Homo sapiens: one gene and its partners. The protein of the gene in region 1 interacts with the protein of each later gene in a pairwise test. Each region holds a gene or a part of one and is shown in the gene's direction. Other genes may lie near its edges.

Region 1 (3,661 bases):
TGACTTCCTCCATCTCTTCTATTATATATGCCTTTAGTTCTGAAGATGCTCTCAGTGGTGGCTTAAACCAACTTTGTGCTATGATGTCTTGAGCAATAAGAGAAAGTCAGCCTCTCTATAAATGCCTAAAGAGTTTTTGAGGATGAGATGTTTGAATGTTACATTTAGCCTTCTGGGTTTAGTGAAAGATAAATGGAGATGCTAATACCAGAGAGTTACAATTCTTGATTAATTTTATATCTATGTATAATCAATTTCAGAATGTTATAGAAATCCTTTATATCTAGACAAAAAGTTGTATTATTACCTTTTAGACCTTCTTCTTAATTATCTCTGTTTTCTACTTGAATAATTATCTCCTAATTAGCAATTTGAAATAAATGAATAAGGAGGCAGAGTAAGAAGCAATATCACATTTATTACAAATAAAACGTACAAGACTTTTGCACAACTCTCACAAATCTCCAGTAAATAGACTGAAAACATCTTTCTAATTCTCCTCACAACTACCACTCTCAAAACAAATTAATAATGGTGGTGAAAACTTTTTAAATACCAACAGAAGCTTTTATAACAAATTTTTAGAGTACTTTAAAATTATATATTGGACAACTAAGATTTTCTTGGATCCAGGTTTTTTATGTTGTTGGAATCAGATAATGAAATACAGAAAAATATTTTTCATTGCCCTTATAGGGATGCAAAGGGTATGGGTATTTTGTGAAATAAATGGATATGATAGTTTGGCTACTTAGGGGAAAACAAATACTATTTTCCCAGAGTTCAGAAATGTATTTAAAACATTAAAGGGTTAAGAAGATTCATTTTCAAAATAACTTTGTTTTTCTGTATTTCTTAATCTCCATTGTTTATTGTATTGCTTTTGGTTAGTTCCCACCACAGACATTGAGCCTGTAACTGTGAGAACTGAGGCTACAGTGACAACATTAGGTAATGACCTCTTATGTCTTTAAGTATGAGTTTTTTCTGCTCATTGTCTAGTCTATTCCATCACTATTTGGGCTAAGGGTTTTTTCTTTCATAAGATTTTCTCATCATCCTCTTGTCATTGAACTATATTCTTCATTTTGAATGTATTGAAAGTGCTTAAAACAAGTTACTTGGTTATAAGCCCATACGCCACTAGTGAACAGCATCTGTGTCCCATTTTTCCCATATTATCCAGCTTTATTAATGCTTGACAGAGCCTGTGATTCTGCTCCAGTAGTGTTCTATGTTAAAACTGAATTTCAAATACAATTAGGAATGTCTGCCTGATAAATATCAATTATAATTCTGTGGGCATCTTACTTTCTGTTGTTTTAAGATATACAGAGAATTTTTATTGTCTACCAACTATTTTAGAAAACAAAATGTGTTTATACTAATAACTTGTAATGGAATGTGTGTCTGAGCCAAGTAATTTCTTAGTACGCTCTCCCAAAAGCAGGCAGGCCTGGGTCCCTCTCTGATGTGATGTCTACGTGCCTATGTCTGACTTCCCTTGGGTCTGGGCCCTCTTTGAAAATCCTATACCAGCAACTAATAATAAAGTTGCAGTTTATTTTTTTAAATTACATATATTCCATCTGTCTCAAAAGACCTGTCAGTAGACCAAAAATACATATTTTTGCATATAGATGATCAGAAGAAAATTCTAAACCAAAGAGACAAATTTCTCAAGACTTAGGAAAACTTTAGAAAACCTAGAACCATGTGTAATCCTTTCTTTGGTTTCTGGAGTCATATGACTACAATAACCAGTTTCCTTTCTTTAGCTCCAAAAACATCGCAACGAACAAGAACACGTCGTCCACGTCCCAAACATAAAACCACGCCACGCCCAGAGACACTGCAGACCAAACTAGGTAAATAATATGTGGTTCCTTGTCCCTGTGGCATCCCATTGGATGTGGCATGGGGGTGGCAGTTTAACATGCCACTTTATAACCCACTTGACCCTTGGGGTGAAGGCCCAAGTCATGGAAAGCAGCTGCTACCAACACAGTGCTCTGGCGATACCTGTGACTTCCTCATTCTGATTGCGTGAGGACCTCCTTGGTGCCTGGGAATTTTACTTGCTTCTCTGACATTCAATTACATTTTTCTCTTTGATTCCTCAGCTCAGCAAAAACTGACCTGATTAGGTGTCTAGTTAGCATATTTAGTTCAACCTGTCACACATTTTGAACGTTTGTATCTGTGAGGAATATTTTAGAAAAAAACAAATGACTTACCTGTGTGAGACTCTTCATAATAGATATACAGGAATGTGAGGAAAAGCAAATATTTATTAAATTTTACCAACTGTTAGGCACATCGTTAATTCTTAGAGAAGCAAAACATCTGTGGGCTGATAAGTGTAATGTGAACCTTTAGGGAGAACTCCATTTCTACAAAAAATTTAAGAAAAACTAGCCAGATATGGTGATGTGCACCTGTAGTCCTAACTACTTGGGTGAATGAGGTGGGAGGATCGCTTGAGCCCAGGAAGTCGAGACTGCAGTGAGCTACAATTGCACCCTTGCACTGTAGCCCAGGCAACGGAGCAAGAGCTCATCTTGTGGACCTTGAAATTTGTAGAGCCTGTAGATTTATTGGTGGATGGGTAGGAATCATATAAACAGAGGCAGGAAGGTGTCGTGTGAGGGTGACATTGGAAGGATAGGAATTGCAAGTGCAACCTGATTGTAAGAAAGGCAAAGTTCTTTTAGTTGGACAGTAATGCTGCTTTTGATGGGTCTACAAAGAGCACTTCGAATGCCTGACTTCGATGATTGGATTTGAGCCAATTGGCTCCAGCACGCTCTCCTAACCTAGAGGTCAGGCCTTTTCTCTCCTGATAACAAAGAGATGCACTAACAAGTTTGATGGATTGAATGACCCTCTATATCTGGTTCTTTGTATGCCTTTATTTGAACAGAGGTCTTGGTCTTTTTCCAAAGTGCACTCTCAACAAAGAACAGCATTATCTGTTTTAGTCATTCATCAGTGTATCTGCTTAAACATATCAGTAATTGCATCTATCATGAACTAGGGCTTTGTTTTCCAGTTTATAGTGTAACTACACTTTCACATTAGTTTTTCCTAATTTTTAAACATAACATTATTAGATGTCCTAAGATTTTTCTAAGCAGTGTTTTCTACTATATCATCAGATAATATAAAAATAAGAAAAACTGGTAGTTAACCATGTTACAGATGCTAAGGTTATATCTGTTTCATAAAAGCAAATAAATATGTACCCTCACTTGAGAACTTCAAAATGTTTGCTTTGTGGCTATAGAACCAACGCTATAATGGTAAAGTTCACTTTTCAAGAGAATGATGGCTTTTCTCGTGTGTTTAACATTTATTTCTTTTTAAAATTGCTTTTGATCATTTCTTGCTACAGACTTTGGACCTATTACTCCTGGGACATCTTCAGGTAATGACTCTCTATGTCCTTCAGCAAGTCCTTTTTCTTACTCATTGTCAGATTTTGCTATGGTGCTATATAGGCTATTGTACCATCTTTTGTTGTCATCTCATTACAGTATTCATCTCAAAATATGGAAAGCTTGCTTTTTAAAGAAATATGCAATGACTTAATTCAAGACAGCTATCTGCTCCATAGCCCAGCTTGAAACTGTGTCATGTCTGAGTCTCTGAACAATACTCT
Region 2 (3,661 bases), on another chromosome or scaffold:
AATAATTGACTTTCAAAGGACAAAGATTTGGCACTATTGAGGCTATTCAAAATAATGAGATGTTGCCTCTAGAAACAATTCCAAAAGAAGTTTCAAGAATATTTTGAACAATGGTAACGTTGTGATCATAGATATGTTGATGTGCTTTAGGGACAACTCTTACTTGGAAGTAGCTATTTTGGTACATCTTTAGAGAAGCCAGACCAAATCCCAGCTGGCGAAGGAGGCTTTTTGAACTTGTTGAGAAGTTTGGTGGACTAAGGGGTATATCATGAATGGTATGAGAGTATTGTGAGTTGGGCCAGGCATGGTGGCTCACTCCTGTAATCCCAGCACTTTGGAAGTCCGAGGCGGGAGGTTTGCTTGAGCCCAGGAGTTTGAGACCAGCCTGGGCAACAAAGTGAGGCCCTGTTTCTATGAAAAATTTAAAAAAAAAAAATTAGCTGGTCCTGGTGGTGAATGACTTTGGTCTCAGCTACATGGGAAGCTGAGGCAAGAGAATTGCTTGAGCCCAGGGGGTTGAAGCTGCAGTGAGCTGTGTTCGTGCCACTGCACTCTCACCTGGGCAACAGAGTGAGACCCTGTCTCAAAAAAAGAAAAAAATATTGTGAGTTAGATTCACCAGAGCCGGAGGGTAGACTATGAGTGGTATGAGAGTATTGTTTGATTCACCTACCCAGAGGCATTTGGTCAGTGGCTCTGTCAGTCTGTAGCCCTGTCCACATTTCTATTACTAACTTGAAATGTTTCTCAGATTTGCAGATGACATATTCCTGGAGGGTAGAGTTAGCTGATCATTCAAAATGATCTTATAAAGTCTTTTTACTGTATATCCTGTGACCTAATAAATTAACATTTAGATATTTTTCCTAAGAAAACACTCATGAATATGTGTAAATATATGAACATTTATCACAATGTTTATAATAGCAAATAATTTAAAGCAACACAGTTAATAAATTATATATAAAACAAATATTATTTATCCACTAAACTGATGTTGTAAATGGCTCATATTTATGAAAAATACCCAATTGCATTCATAATAAGATAAATGCAAATTAAAACTACTTGACATATTATATTGGCAAAAATACACTCAGTGCGTAAGGCTGTGTGGAAGCAAACGCTCTTAAACAGTGCTGGTGGGAATGTAAATTGATATAATTCCTGTATCAATTGGGACAATTTGGAAATATTTGTCAAAATTACAAAAACACATACTTCTTAGCCCACTCTTTTGTTTTCCACCCAGCATCTTACAGATATATTTGCATACATGTGAGATGACGTATGTACAGGGTCGTTCACTGAAGTATTGTTTTAATAGCCAAAGATTGTAAACAACTCAAATGTCCAACAAGAGACTGGCAAAGTAAAATATGGTACATTCATCAGCTAAGCAGCTGTAAAAAAGAACAAGGACGCTCTCTATGCGCAAATGTAAAATGATTTTCAAGTGGAAAAAGCAAGGAACACAAAACAGTGTATAGTATGCCGTATGCTACCTTTTGTTTAAAAGGGCATATGTAAGAAGCTGTGTTTGCTTGTGTAGGCATAGGGAAATGCAGGAAGGATATGTAAGAAACTAACAGTTGTTATTTATGGAGGGAGGGATTTGAGAACTAGGTAGATAGAGGATAAGAATGGGATGGAGACATGCAAACATGTCACCTATTAGAAGAATAGTTAATGAGGAGGAAAAATGCATAGTATATATTTAAATGGAAAAAAGCATGTTGAAATTCTATGTACAGTTTGATCCATATTTTATAAAAGAATATGCCCATCAAAAATAAAGCTTAGAAGGTTGTACACCAAAATTTTCATACTCCTTGTCTCTGAGTACTGGGATTATATGTTATGTTAGTTCTCACACTGCTATAAAGAACTACCTGAGACTGGGTAATTTATAAAGAAAAGAGGTTTAATGGACTCATAGTTCCACCGGCCATATAAGAAACATGGTTGGGAGGCCTCAGGAAACTTACAATCATGGAGGAAGAGTGAAGCGCAAGCAAGCACCTTCACATGGCCCAGCAGGAGAGAGAGCAAAGCGGGAGGTGCTATACACTTTTAAAAAACCAGATGTAGTGAGAACTCACTCACTGTCACAAGAACAGCAAGGCAGAAATCTGCCCCCATGGTCCATCAACACTGGAGATTACAATTCAACATGAGATTTGGGTGGGGACACACAGCCAAACTATATCAGTCTACTCCTGACCCCTATCAAATCTCATCGCCTTCTCACATTTCAAAACACAATCACATGTTAATTATAATGTTTATTTTTTACCTTCTGGGCTTTTCCCAATTTTCTACAATCAACACGTGTTGTTCAGTAAATGGTAACAACAACCCTAAAATGTAATTTTTTTTTTAAGTCAGGGATTAATTTTGGGCAGAAATCAAGAAAATAAAAATCAGTATCACTCTAAAATTTTGTTTCCATTTCAAAATCACTTGCGTAAGTGTAGGATTATTGAGGACCTAAACATTCAAACAGAGAGGCAAATGACCCCTGCCAGGAATCCTACTTGGACAGATTATTGGCGTGGGTGCAAAGCTAAGGTAACTGCCCTGTAAAGCTCTAATCCTAACATAATCATAGAATAGTGTAGGGAAAAAAATTGGTGCTGGATAACTCAGAGTGACTTAAAAATACTTTCAGAGGAAGAGGAAATGCTTAGAGGTTTACTGTAGAGCAGGATCAAATATTGTGAAATAGATCAATTTAGATCAATGAAAGGGTGAGGCAGATGAAGTGGGATGAAGTCAGAAGGGTAAACACTGGCTGAGGTCAAAATACAGAGAGAGGATAGAGATGTGTTTAAGTGGGTCCTTGGGTGATTGTGTCACCTGTCATTGAAATCGTCAGGGCATTTGCTTATCATTCGTCTTATTTCTGTTCCTCTGGGACAAGAGGAGTGGTGGGCCTTCTTCCACTCCTTCTCCATGTTTGTGTTAAAGGTGCCAGGTTCATGTGGAAGTAGCACCTAGGCTTTTTCTGGAAGTCTCTTGGGGAGATGCAGAAGGAAGAAGACTGCTGGGCCAATGGCCTAGAGACCTCAGTGCACTAGTGATATTGACATGACATTTGCAAGATGCTTTTTACTTTGCAGAGTGCTTTTCTATGTACTTTCTCATGTGACCAGGCTCTGTGATGTCCCAGTTTTATTTCAGCATTCTACTTTTTGGAGGTCACATAGTTAAGAGCTGTAAGTTCCACAAGGATGGGGACCACATCTGCCCTTATGTTTGCCCAGCACCTAGCCCAATGCTTGGCTCAAATTAGGTACTCAGTAAGTGAACAAACTTTTCTCCAATTTCCTTCACTGTTCTGTTTTGACCGGAAGGTGGTGGGATTCTCCTGGTTCACAGTTACAAACTCTTAACTTGGACACAGCATGAGCCTCCACTATGTATAACTCTTTTCCATTCTCCAGCATATCGCACGGATGACTGCCATCCCTGGGTTTTGCCAGTAGTGAAGAAAGTGGAGCAGAAGATTGCTAATGACAATAGCCTAAATCACGAGTATCTGCCAATCCTGGGCCTGGCTGAGTTCCGGAGCTGTGCTTCTCGTCTTGCCCTTGGGGATGACAGCCCAGCACTCAAGGAGAAGCGGGTAAGTTTTGGGTAAGGATGTATTTTCTCT
Region 3 (2,837 bases), about 52 Mb from region 1:
GCAAAAATGGTTTCACGTTTGCTTAAATGCTTCATCACAGTCACATTCAAAATAGTGACTCTAAACAAAGAAGAAAGCAGCACTGTCATCAGATGCATGATAAACCAAAATATGAAAATGGGAAATGTTTAATTAACCTAGTAATTGGGTGGGTTAAGTACATGGGTGAATTTTATATGTGATTTTTGTTTTGTTTTGTTTTGTTCAGATTAACTGCTTATAGCCTTAGAAAGCCTTTTACAAAATTAAAAAAAAAATAGATGTGCATTCAGTTTTTAAGAATGGAATCATCCAAAGGAATTCCTTTTTTTGAGGTTTGGATGTTGCAGCTAGTAAAGGATATTTTTGCTCTGTTCAGCAGTTCTAAAAATTGCTGAAGTAGGGGCCAGGTCACTGGTAGTTATAGTATGGAATGGGAGAAGTGAAAGTTCAGTTATAGAACTTTCCATACTTCCAAGTTTACTGCAAGTTTTTATGCTTGAGAGAGATGCTTTCTAATATAAGACTGATGTGTTGATTTTACTGATTGTACTGTACATCTATTAAAGCCTTAGATTATTACATTACGGGTTGGAACCCATACCAATGTAATTTCAATCGTGTTAAGAAAGTAATGGTGACTTCACATGTTATTGTAGTTAGTTACATTATAGAATATTACTTATTTTTCTTGTTAAAATGTAGTTTTTCATTTCCTACATTTATTAGATTTTCATTTTCTATTAACAATTGAATACCATTTCAGTTTATAGACTTGTTTTATTAGATTTTACCAATGAATTTTTCAAAATACAAAAAAAAGTAGTTTTTCCTTCATAACATACTCAGTTTTGAATTACATGTAGTGTCACATGAATATTCGTATTGTTAACTAAATGATTTATATTTTACTGATTTAATATTACAGTGTAAGAATGTCAGTCATTGTTAGTTCTTGTCTAGTTTTCATTAAAAGAACAAAGATCTTTTATATGGATATCTTATAAATATATAATCATTGCTAAGTAAGAAGTTAAGTTGTTGCTATCGCAACAATCCTGGCAGACAATTGAGTAATATTTTGATGATTTATTTTGTTTGTAATTAGTTATTATAAGAAGATCTAGATCCTAGATATTAGAATAAAATTTATTTTCTACTGTATCCATTTCAAATGTTAAAATATTGTTTAATATTTTTGAAATCCCTGAGTATCAGGCCTTGTTATAAATAAGCTGCATAATCAATAAATAGAACAAGGGACTTTTTGTTGATAATCCAAATACTCAAAGTTTACGTAATGAAAATTATAGCGTGTGTGCAAACTCTTGAGGGTTGATTATGCTGCAATTTAGCATGTTGGAACGTCTAGGGAGAAGGTTGACTTTTTGCACTTCTGTATATAGTCAAAAGAGAGAAACCTGTATAATAGTAAGATCTTATTTTGAATAAAAACGTCTATAATTACAAGGAGTTTTGTTAAGGCTAATACAATGACAGACTGAGCAAAATTGCTTGCAAAAGTGGCACAGAGTTAGCACTCCATACCCCTTCAAACATGTTGCTTTGCTTTCTTGTGGACAGCTTGTAGTTTGCCAGGATTTTTTCAGCTGGAAAGATACGCCATCCTTTCAAACCCTCATGACTGACAAAAACTCCATGGGGCCAAATCTGCCTGAAGATCATTACCAAAAATAGCAGGTACTTCTACCATTAAGGTGAAATCATGGATCAGATATTCCTTACATTTTTCAAAACTACTGCATGTTTAAAACTTCAACAAAAAAAGAGAGAAAGAACTATACTAAGAACATATATTATTCAGATCAGTTTCTGCCAATTTCAGTGGTTTATTGTTCACAAAAAAATCTTCAAAACAAGTATTGACTTTCACAAAATTTAAATCATAAACAGGCAAACCAAACAGCACACTGTAGCTATAGTTGTTATGTGATTGTTTTTTAATTGCTGTAGGATCCTGTTCTTTCAGCAGGTGAAAAATAAAACGCAGTTCAAATTTCATGGTTTTAATTTTCAACTCAGAAGCACTCAAAAATGCAAAATGTGATAATGGGCACTTGTTTAAAAGAATTAGTGTATCCAGCCTTCACTCCAGCTGGTTAAAAATGTTGCACTTATCAGCAACCCTACCACTTTCATCTGCTGAAAGGACAAATGTGCTTGGTTTTACTATTATGTAATCACAACTTACTTTCTGCTTGTAGTTGCTTAAAATTATGTATTTTGTCTTGGGCTGCAATTTGTTTTATGCTTATTTTATTATTACTGCAGTAGTTGACTTTGCTGTATGGAAAAATAAAGTGAAATTGCCCTAATAAAACTTCTCTTTCTTAAGTATATTCGTGTATCTGAGATTGAATACTAAATTATTTTTGCGTGTTTCATGTATTCATGCATATGTATCTATCTTTACAAACATATTGATGTATAAATTTGTTACCTGGTTTTAACTGATTGCAACTGCGAGGAAGGCATTTGTTGTCTTTCTCACTAATTATCCTTTGACACTGAGAGGGAGAATCTAAATCAGCATATATTGCCCTCCTGTGCCCAATGTTTTCTGAAATTCTTGCCTTCCCCTGTCTGACACTTTAAGCGCTGATTGAAATAGTTTTAAGTGTCAGGGCAAAAAACGGTAAGAAAAAAATTATTATACATTATAGATCACTATCTATCTTTTATTAAAGAAATCTTATTTGCCTGACTGCTGCGTCAGCTGATTAGGACTGGAAATCAGGCAATCCAAGAGAGGTGATGGCACTGTATTCAGAGGGATGAAAGAAATTATGCATATGATCTATGAGGCAGGCCATGATATTACTCCTGAGGGGTGTGTG

Evidence for each region.
Region 2: the proteins of ABI3BP (region 1) and GOT1 interact in a two-hybrid assay, tested with the Homo sapiens proteins (one large-scale study listed by BioGRID and IntAct).
Region 3: the proteins of ABI3BP (region 1) and MBNL1 interact in a two-hybrid assay, tested with the Homo sapiens proteins (one large-scale study listed by BioGRID and IntAct).

What each region holds. Positions count from the first base shown.
Region 1 is NC_000003.12:100,832,891-100,836,551, reverse strand, and holds part of ABI3BP (target of Nesh-SH3 isoform 8 precursor), read left to right. Parts: intron 1-891; coding exon 892-951; intron 952-1,778; coding exon 1,779-1,868; intron 1,869-3,394; coding exon 3,395-3,427; intron 3,428-3,661.
Region 2 is NC_000010.11:99,420,594-99,424,254, reverse strand, and holds part of GOT1 (aspartate aminotransferase, cytoplasmic), read left to right. Parts: intron 1-3,449; coding exon 3,450-3,631; intron 3,632-3,661. UniProt on the Homo sapiens protein: Biosynthesis of L-glutamate from L-aspartate or L-cysteine. Important regulator of levels of glutamate, the major excitatory neurotransmitter of the vertebrate central nervous system. Acts as a scavenger of glutamate in brain neuroprotection.
Region 3 is NC_000003.12:152,463,444-152,466,280, forward strand, and holds the end of MBNL1 (muscleblind-like protein 1), read left to right. Parts: 3' UTR 1-2,337; downstream 2,338-2,837. UniProt on the Homo sapiens protein: Mediates pre-mRNA alternative splicing regulation. Acts either as activator or repressor of splicing on specific pre-mRNA targets. Inhibits cardiac troponin-T (TNNT2) pre-mRNA exon inclusion but induces insulin receptor (IR) pre-mRNA exon inclusion in muscle.